Regions from separate parts of the Homo sapiens genome. Here region 2 is linked to region 1. Evidence: fine-mapped expression QTL. Tissue or cell type: whole blood. Region 1 holds a variant in brackets; the other region holds the start of a gene. All regions are shown on one strand. Distances are from middle to middle. Region 1 overlaps NSUN7 (NOP2/Sun RNA methyltransferase family member 7). Region 2 holds the start of NSUN7 (NOP2/Sun RNA methyltransferase family member 7).

Region 1 (4,394 bases):
CACCCAAGGCACTTGTGCCCACCTGCCTTCCCACACACTCACTATCCAGAAAAGAGGAAAAGCCTAAAGATGACACACCTTCCTCCCTACTCAGGCCTCCTCGGCGATGGCTTTGATTGTCTTGTGTTTTTTATAGGGGCCAAAGAGCAGTTGATTTTTTTTCAAAGTCTAGTATTTCTCTGAAGATTCTACATCTCTACACAAGATATTCATTCTTTTGGTCACCTAGGGATCTTCTAAGTGTGATATTACTTTCAGAGAATTCAGACAAGTGAGAAACAATAATGTAGGAGTCAGCAAAGCAGAATTCAGAGACTTCAGCCAATCACTGCTGCTCTGAGAGGATCCAGTTAGAGACTCAGTATCAGCGGTCAGAACTTATCTCACTCCTGTGAACTTTCAGGCTGGACTTAAAGCTGCCAAGTTTCCCCTGCAGGGAAGGAAACACTGCCTCCCTTCAGCAGGTAGCTCATTAGAAAGCCAAACAGGCAAACGATCCTGGCCTCTCCCGCCAGCTGACCGCTCTTCAGCATCCATGCGGTTGTAGTCGTGACTTTCTCAGTCACGATCAAGGGTGATTTTTTCTTAAATATCAAGCTGTTCTTTGAACAGGGAATGAACATGAGTTTTTGTAACGTGACTGAAGTTGAGTTTAAGTAGGAAGCGCAGGAAGTTCCCAAGTGCCAGGTGTGTGTAGCTCAGAGTTCCTTTTACAGTGAGGTGTCTCTCACTGGGGGAGCTTCCAGGATCCTGAGCAGACTGGACACAATCATCTCTCCCTTCCTCTATGTCAAGCACTGTTACAAAAGACTGTGAGCAAATTTCCATCTAAATATTAATAATTCTGAAGAAGAGGCAAAACTGTTGAATGCAAGCGATACCTATTGTTGAAGAAACCCACAAATTTCTGATTCTAAGATCAGGGGATACAACAAAATCTACAAGTCATTTCAAATAGCACACAGGAATCAAACTTTGGTAAATCATTTCTGAGGCACAATTAAATATATTGTAGCACTATGTTAATTAATTATATTAAATGTCGATTCATCTTGAATGTATTCTCAATTGCCTACCAAAAATTGGTATGATTATCATTTCTGGGTCTACTGATTTTTCATCATGGCAACAGAAATTGTCATTAAATAGAATTAAGATACAACTATATATCTTATTATTTAAAAACATTCATAGACATATTCATAAAGTTTGAATTTAAAGTTTTATTTTTGCAATTCAGTTGTATAGAAATGTTACATAAATTCCTAAATGCTCAATTCAGGTGGCATGATTTTTAGAATATTATCTTCTTCAAGATGAATACTTAGGTCTACTTCAGCTCTGATATTCTATTTTTACTTTCTTACTTGAAGTGAGAAAAGAGAATGGTGAATTGTATTATAGCGGTAATACATTATTTTTATTTTAGCTTAGATTTACATTTATCAGTAAAACGTGTCAGTGGGCTGGGTGCAGTGGCTCACATCTGTAATCTCAGCAGTTTGGGAGGCTGAGGTGGGCACGCCACTTGAGCACCGGAGTTCCAGACGAGCCTGGACAACATGGCGAAACCCCAAAACCCCATCTCTACAAAAAATACAAAAATTAGCTGGGTGTGGTGGGACACGCCTGTAGTCCCAGCTACTTAGGAGGCTGAGGTACGAGGATCTCTTGAGTCCAGGAGGTGCAGGTTGCAGTGAGCCAATATTGCCCCACTGCACTCCAGCCTGGGAAGCAGAGTGAGACCTTGCCTCAAAAAAAAAAAAAAAAAAAAAAAAGTGTCAATGAAGAAAGGAAACAAGACTTTTTATAGTTGAACCAGGCTTAT[T/C]GTATTTTAAATCCCTGAAGAAGAATTCTTCATGTTATCACTCTTGTACAGAAAGATATAAAGTGCTCAGCTTATTTTGCTGATTTTGAAAATCAAACACTATCTCCTTGCCCTAAAATTATAGCGTGTGGCTCATCCTCTTATCCCACCCAGATTTCTATCTGGTTGGTTAGGGTAGTCCATGCCTCAAGGAAGGCGGTGCAGCTTAATTTAACATATTGTTCAGTAAAGAATCCCATTGTGTATCATAAGAATCCCTTATCCTTTTCGGGCCCTCCACCATACCAGACTGAAAAGTATTCCATTGTCCAGAAGTAGCTGGTCTTGAGATTTTTATTTTCAAGTGTATTTTCTGTGATGTTGTCTCATTGTTATGGAATAGTTTAGGATAATTTTCTGATCTCTACAGTAGCATGTGAAGTCACAATTTGTTGCCACTTACATTGATTATCTCCTAACATGCATTTGGCACTAAATTATTTTTCTCTTTAGAAGTATATGAAGATTCTGAATTAAACCATTCATTAATTACACTGCAGTTTTCTTCTTTGAGAATCTTCTATGAAGGACAGGATTATTTAAATACTTTGGTAGAGTGAAAAGGGAAAAGAATTTTGGATAAAAGCAATATGAGGCCGGACGTGGTGGCTCACATACTTTGGGAGGTTGGGGCGGGCGGATCACCTGAGGTCAGGAGTTCGAGACCAGCCTGGCCAACGTGGCGAAACCCTGTCTCTACTAAAAATATACAAATTGGCCAGGCGTGGCGGTGCATGCCTGTAATCCCAGCTACTCAGGAGGCTGAGGCGAGAATTGCTTGAACTTGGGAGGTGGAGGTTGTGGTGAGCTGAAATTACACCACTGCACTCCAGAGTAAGACTCCTCTGTCTGAAGAAAAAAAAAAAAAGCAATATGAGGGAATTCTAATGAAGGAGAATATTGATTCCACTGACATGTTTCATTTGGCATTTTACATTCTTGGACTTCTTCTTGAGATAAAAGTGCTGCAAAATTCTAAATAATGAAATTACTAGTATTCAGATACTCCAATAGCAAACACATTTTTAATCTGAAATTATTTACCACCATATAATGCCTGAAACCATAATGAAATTTTGTTACTGACTAGAGAGAAACCACTGTGGAAGTGCAAGATGAACAAAAAGCGGGGACATACTTTAAATTCTGTTTATCTGCCTTCCTGCGCCTAACAGTTAAGCTAAACCAGATTCAACTGATTTCTCTAGTTACCTTTCATTTTGGATTTAGTGTGTGTACACCTCTATTCTTTATTCTTTGATGTCAGGTTCTTAAAGGAAGTGATAAACTTCTTCGTGCTAAAATATCACAATCCTAGCAAGACCGCTTACAAAAGACTCGAGTTGGTGACTAAATAGGCTTCTATGTCCGGAAGGCCAGCTGGCCTTCCTGATCACCAAATAAGTACAGGGTGATTACTCAAAATTTGAAGTTACTTCCTAGTTCTTACCAGGCAGAAATATGTAGTAACTAATCAAAGCAAAATGCTCCATTACTAAAGTGATTTCTAAGAAGTCTGAGGTAAGAATAATTTAAAAATAACTAGAGACACCGAGTTTCTATTTCTATTCCTTGTATATGTGACTAAGATGTCAGATAAATGAGCCGAACGTTTTATGCAGCTAAATTTATTCTCACAACAAATTACATTTAAATGTGTAAAAGTGGTCAACAGGAAAAGGGCATAAAGGAAAACAAAGCGTTCTTTCAGGGGAAGTAAGCTGCTCTGGAGGCCAGGAACTACTGCTTGCGTTGACACGGTGTGAGTGGGTATCTTTGCCCTGAAGCTGAAGTTAAACTTTCTACTGGCCGTGTGGCACACACGTTAGATGTGTATTAGGTTAAGCCTGGCCAACTAGAGAGCGAAGGGGCTTATTAGTTAAATTGTGCTAATATCAGTTAGGAAAATGCTTGTCATGTTGTGGTGAAATCTTGAGGAGTTTGTGTTGCAATGCCTGGGACATGAACGGGCCATACAAACAGAGGAAAGCTCTGGGGCTTCCAGGCAATGGCCTTGTGTCGAGTCATCTTACAAGTGTCCATCTTGAAATCATAAAGTGGATTTAAAAAGAAGTAGCAGTGCCACAGTTTATCACCAAGAACTTATTTTAATGGAAATGGGTCTAATGTCCCTTCATGCAACAAGACAGATGAACAAAAAACAATGGTCCTAATTAGCTATGAGTGATCTTGTATCCAGGTGGAAACAAAGGGCATGTGTACATGTATATATCTCTTAGATGAAATCACACATGTTGTGAAGGGTAGAAAAACGAAGCACCAAGCAGTGCTTTAGTCTGCAAAGGAAAGTTTTTAGCCATAGGCATGTTGGCTAGTCGTTCCCCTTGATGTTGCCAAGGAGCAGATGTATGAGGTGGCAAGTCTGTGTCTATCTAGCTGCTTTTAAAAAATAAAAGGAACTTTAAGCATTTTGCCTTTTCTTCTACATATCCCAATAGAAATGTGACTACAAATCATTACAAAACCACTTTTTAGGCAATGTATAGTTCACTGAGATTACTTAGAT
Region 2 (4,394 bases), 61 kb before region 1:
GTGAGAAGTAAGGAGGCAGGATTATATACATGATTAAAGTAAATAGTAACCATGAATTTGCTAACCCCACAACTCTTTGCCTAAGCTCTACCTTGGGGATAGAGACTCGTTAAACCTTGTTTTCAATATAGTAAACTGTTACTTACATTGAACTATTATTAAAGAAAATAAACTCTTCAAATTATATTTTGAATGACAATATTTCAAAGTTTATAGCTAGCTATTGCCTCACATCACTGTGTACTGGGTGATGCATGATAAAATATATCATGACCTCTAAGACACCTTCCATATTTGTAATCTTCTGTGAATGTCTGTATGTGAAAGAGAGTGATATTTTGCTAGCATCTGGGAATAAAAAAGATATATAATAAAAATGAAAAGATAAAGATAAAACAAGACTATTTTAGAGTGTGTGTGTTGTGTGGATAGAAAGATGGCAGAAGGGGGGTAATGCAGGTATGTACACGAATCTTTATAACAAAAATGAAAAGGTGACAAAATACAAATATATCCATCTTTAATTTCTTGAGGGCAAGGTCTTTGATCATTTCTTTTTTTTTTGAGACGGAGTCTGGCTCTGTCACCCAGGCTGCAGTGCAGTGGCCCAATTTCGGCTCACTGCAACCTCCGCCTCTCGGGTTCATGCCATTCTCTGGCCTCAGCCTCCTGAGTAGCTGGGACTACAGGCGCCCGCCACCACGCCCGGCTAATTTTTTTGTATTTTTAGTAGAGACGGGGTTTCACCGTGTTAGCCAGGATGGTCTCGATCTCCTGACCTCGTGATCCGCCCGCCTCGACCTCCCAAAGTGCTGGGGTTACAGGCGTGAGCCACCGCGCCCGGTCAGGTGTCTGATCATTTCTATACATTCATTATTTTACTTGTAGGGCTGAACACAATGCCAGGGACACAGCAAGAATTTAATATATACTTGTTAAACGAACGAATGAATGCATGTATACATAAAATGTTACGGAATGTTTAACGTATTCCGGGGATAATGAAAGTGGGTGGATTTCTGAGAGAAGGGGTCAGGGTTAGAGTTCTGTACTGCTAATTTTTTCCCCATTATCCATTCTCTCCTTCTTCTACAGTAATAGTTCCCTTATTTTTAGCTGGACACATTTACCAGCCTCTTGGTTGCTGGGTATATGACTGAGTTCTGACCAATAAAATGTGAGCCAAAGTGATATGTGCACCTTTCAGGTCATTGAAAAATATGGGCTGCCCTCTCTTTCCCCTTCATCCTACTAACCACTGGCTGGAAATGGAAATGGCCTTAGCCTAAAGAAGGAAGGGCAAATCCCTAAGGAGGAAAGGCAGAGGTGGAATTAGGACCAGTTGTCTTTCAACTATACCAGAGTTTTTCAAACTGTGGTCTTTGGGCTGATTGCATCAGAATCGCCAGTTACCTGATAAAAATGCAAATTACTGGGTCTTAGCAACTCAAATCTCTAGGATGGGTTCCAAGGATTTTTTTTTAGCTGGAGGCGGTGGTTCACGCCTGAAATCCCAGCACTTTGGGAGGCCGAGGAGGGAGGACTCCTTGAGCCCAGGAATTCGAGACCACCCTGGGCAACATAATGGGAACCCTGTCTCTGTTATTAAAAAAAATTATTACAGACGGCGCAGTGGCTCACGCATGTAATCCCAGCACGTTGGGAGGCCAAGGCCGGCAGATCACTTGACGTCAGGAGTTCGAGACTAACTTGATCAACACGGTGAAACCCTGTCTCTACTAAAAATACAAAAATTAGCAGGGTGTGGTGGCGGGCGCCTGTAGTCCCAGCTACTCGGGAGGCTGAGGCATGAGAATCACGTGAACCCGGGAGGAGGAGGCTGCAGTGAACCGAGATTGCGCCACTGCACTCCAGCCTGGGCGACAGAGCGAGACCATGTCTCAAAAAAAAAATTATTACTATATTTTAAAAATATTTTAAAGAATGTGTAGTTTTAACAGGGACTTCAGGAACTTGTGAGTTAAAACCACGGAACTACGTCAGACTACCTCAAAAATATCCCCAAATGTTTATAAACAAAGCCAAGGGCACGCACTCAGGCCCGGTGAGGTCCAGGAACTGTGCAAGAGGCCTCTGGCTCGGAGGGGCTGAAACAGGTGTCTCCGCGCGCTGGGGGAAGAGCGACTCTCCCGGCAACAGGTAGCACCCGCCAAATCCCGCGGGAACGGCCCTCGCGCCGCGCCCCCTGCCCCACCTCCGCTCGCGGTTGCCATGAAGACCCGGTCCGGGAGCAGTCGACTGCCGGAGACTCGGGAGGCTGAGCTTTCCTCGGCCTGAGCCAGCCAGACCCCGGGCACCGCGCTCACCCCTCTTCGCCGCCACGTCCGCGAAGGCCTCACGCGCGAGGCCAGGCGAGGCCCCGAGGCGCCCACCACTTCACGACACCGGAGCGAACCGGGCGCCAGAGGCTGCGACCCCCCTGCCCCGAATCCTGCCGGTGGGAGTGGCTGCATTTGAACCAAACGGCCTTCGCGGGCAGCAGCCGTCGCCCCGCAGTCCCGGGGCTCCCAAGGGCCTGTGACCGACGCCGCCCTCCGCGTCTTCGTCCCCGAAGCCCCGGGAACCATCCGCCCTCGGGGTAAGGGAGGAGTCGGGGGAGCCGGTGACTGGGCTGTGGGGACGCGGACGGGGCTCCGGGGGCAGCTCTGCCCCCAGACTGGCTTGAGGGAAGCCGTCGGTCTCCTTGGGGCTCTTCTCCCTCCGCCGCTGCACCCCTCCTCGCTTTTTTTTTTTTTTTTGAGCGTCCCAGGCTCGAAGTCTGGGACACTCAGATGGGACGGGAAATGCTCCCTCTTAGTCTTTAAGGCCACAACGAAGGGGGCCACCCACAGGGGTGCTGCAGAAAGAGTGATTTACTGCAATCACCTTCTCTCTTCACAGAGACCATGCTGCAGATGCGAGGAAAGCCGTTTCCTGGAACATCGGAATTCTAACCCCAGGGTGAAGGACTCACGACAGGCGAGGGGCAGACATGCTGAATTCCACGGGCGAACTGGAGTTTTCGAACGAAGAAGATCCCGAGATCATCTCCCAACTCACTTCCCTGCCTCTGTCCGGTGGGAAAAGCTCAGCTGGTGTGCCCGAAAAAACGGGCTATCCGGACTCCGTTTATGTCATGGCAGCCAACATTTTTCAGGGTATTCGAATCGAAAAGTCGGCACAGAAAGTCTTAATCAAGTATGGGAATGAACCCCTGCGGTCCTTGTCCGAGTCTGAGGATCAGTCCTTTCAGCGTTTGTCTTATGAGCTGGCTTTCAGTGCCCTGAAATGTGAGTTGTGCCAGTCTGGAAGATCAACACTAAAAGAAAATAATAGCGAGAGAATTTGGGGAATGCAGCCCTCCTCCTCCCTTCCCCTCATTCACACCAGGTTTTGGTTTTAGGCATGTGCATATCTTTGGTTAATTGCAAGTGTCAAGGAATTAGGGTTCCCATGAAACTAGCTCTTCCAGCCCAGGATTGCAGATTTCCCCGTGCACTGTGTTTGTCCTTAGATCGGTGTAGTGCGCGGTCATTACATTCAACAAGGAAACAATTTATTCCAATGATCATTTCCCTCTCCCTGTATTTTTTTTTCCCTCGTAGACTTAGGGGTCTCGCTTTATTGTCTGGGCTGGTCTCAAACTCTGGACCTCAAGGAATCCTCCCTCTTCAGCTTCCCAAAGTGCTGGGATTACAGGCAGTGAGCCACCACGCCTGGCCTCCCTGTGTATTTCTTTCCATTCCCTGTGTTTACCTTTTTTGGTATTTTAGTTTATGAGCTTTCACAAATATAAAACCAGTGAGGGAGGATGGGGAGAGGAACAGAGACGGAATAAAAAGAAAAGGTGCAAAATTTAAAAAATGAATATCAAAATTACACCAACCCCAATTAAGACTATCCCATTCATAGCCACTAGCTTTAATGGGAGGAGCCAAACTTTAGTAGAACTTCCCTTTCTAATTTGCTTTCAGGGTTTGAGACTCAAGGATGGTTAGTTATCAATCTGAGGCCAAGGGTGGTTGCTCAGGCCTGTAATCCCAGCACTTTTCGAAGCCAAGGTGGGAGGATTGATTGAGCTCAGGCGTTAAAGACCAGCCTGGGCATATAGTGAGATCTCCTCTCTACAAAAAAAAATTTAAAAATTAGCCCAGTATGGTGGCACATGTCTTTAGTCCCAGATACTTGGGAGATTGAGGCGGGAGGATCGCTTGAGCCTGGGAGGCAGAGGTTGCAGTGAGCCAAGATGGTGTCATTGCACTCTAACCTGGTGACAGAGCAAGACCCTGTGGAATTGACACTAGGAAATGACCAAATATTGCTACTATGAGGAGAGCAGTCAAAAGGCTTGAAGTTGTTTGTTTTCGTACTAGCTGTGACTAAAAACTTTATGT

The links. PIP is the estimated chance that this variant, and not a neighbour inherited with it, causes the effect.
Region 2: it holds the start of NSUN7, and the variant in region 1 is fine-mapped to the expression of NSUN7 in whole blood (TOPMed, PIP 0.98).

Annotation. Positions count from the first base shown.
Region 1 is chr4:40,808,824-40,813,217 of GRCh38, forward strand. It overlaps NSUN7 (NOP2/Sun RNA methyltransferase family member 7), which reads left to right. Exons shown (of 12, transcript NM_024677.6): 12 at 1-2,361. The coding sequence ends at 116. It overlaps APBB2 (amyloid beta precursor protein binding family B member 2), which reads right to left. Exons shown (of 18, transcript NM_004307.2): 18 at 1,204-4,394. Among named protein-coding and RNA genes, the nearest start is that of NSUN7, 61 kb to the left of the region's middle. The variant T/C (reference allele first, on the strand shown) is at 1,829.
Region 2 is chr4:40,747,702-40,752,095 of GRCh38, forward strand. It overlaps NSUN7 (NOP2/Sun RNA methyltransferase family member 7), which reads left to right and starts at 2,254. Exons shown (of 12, transcript NM_024677.6): 1 at 2,254-2,599; 2 at 2,902-3,290. The coding sequence starts at 2,993.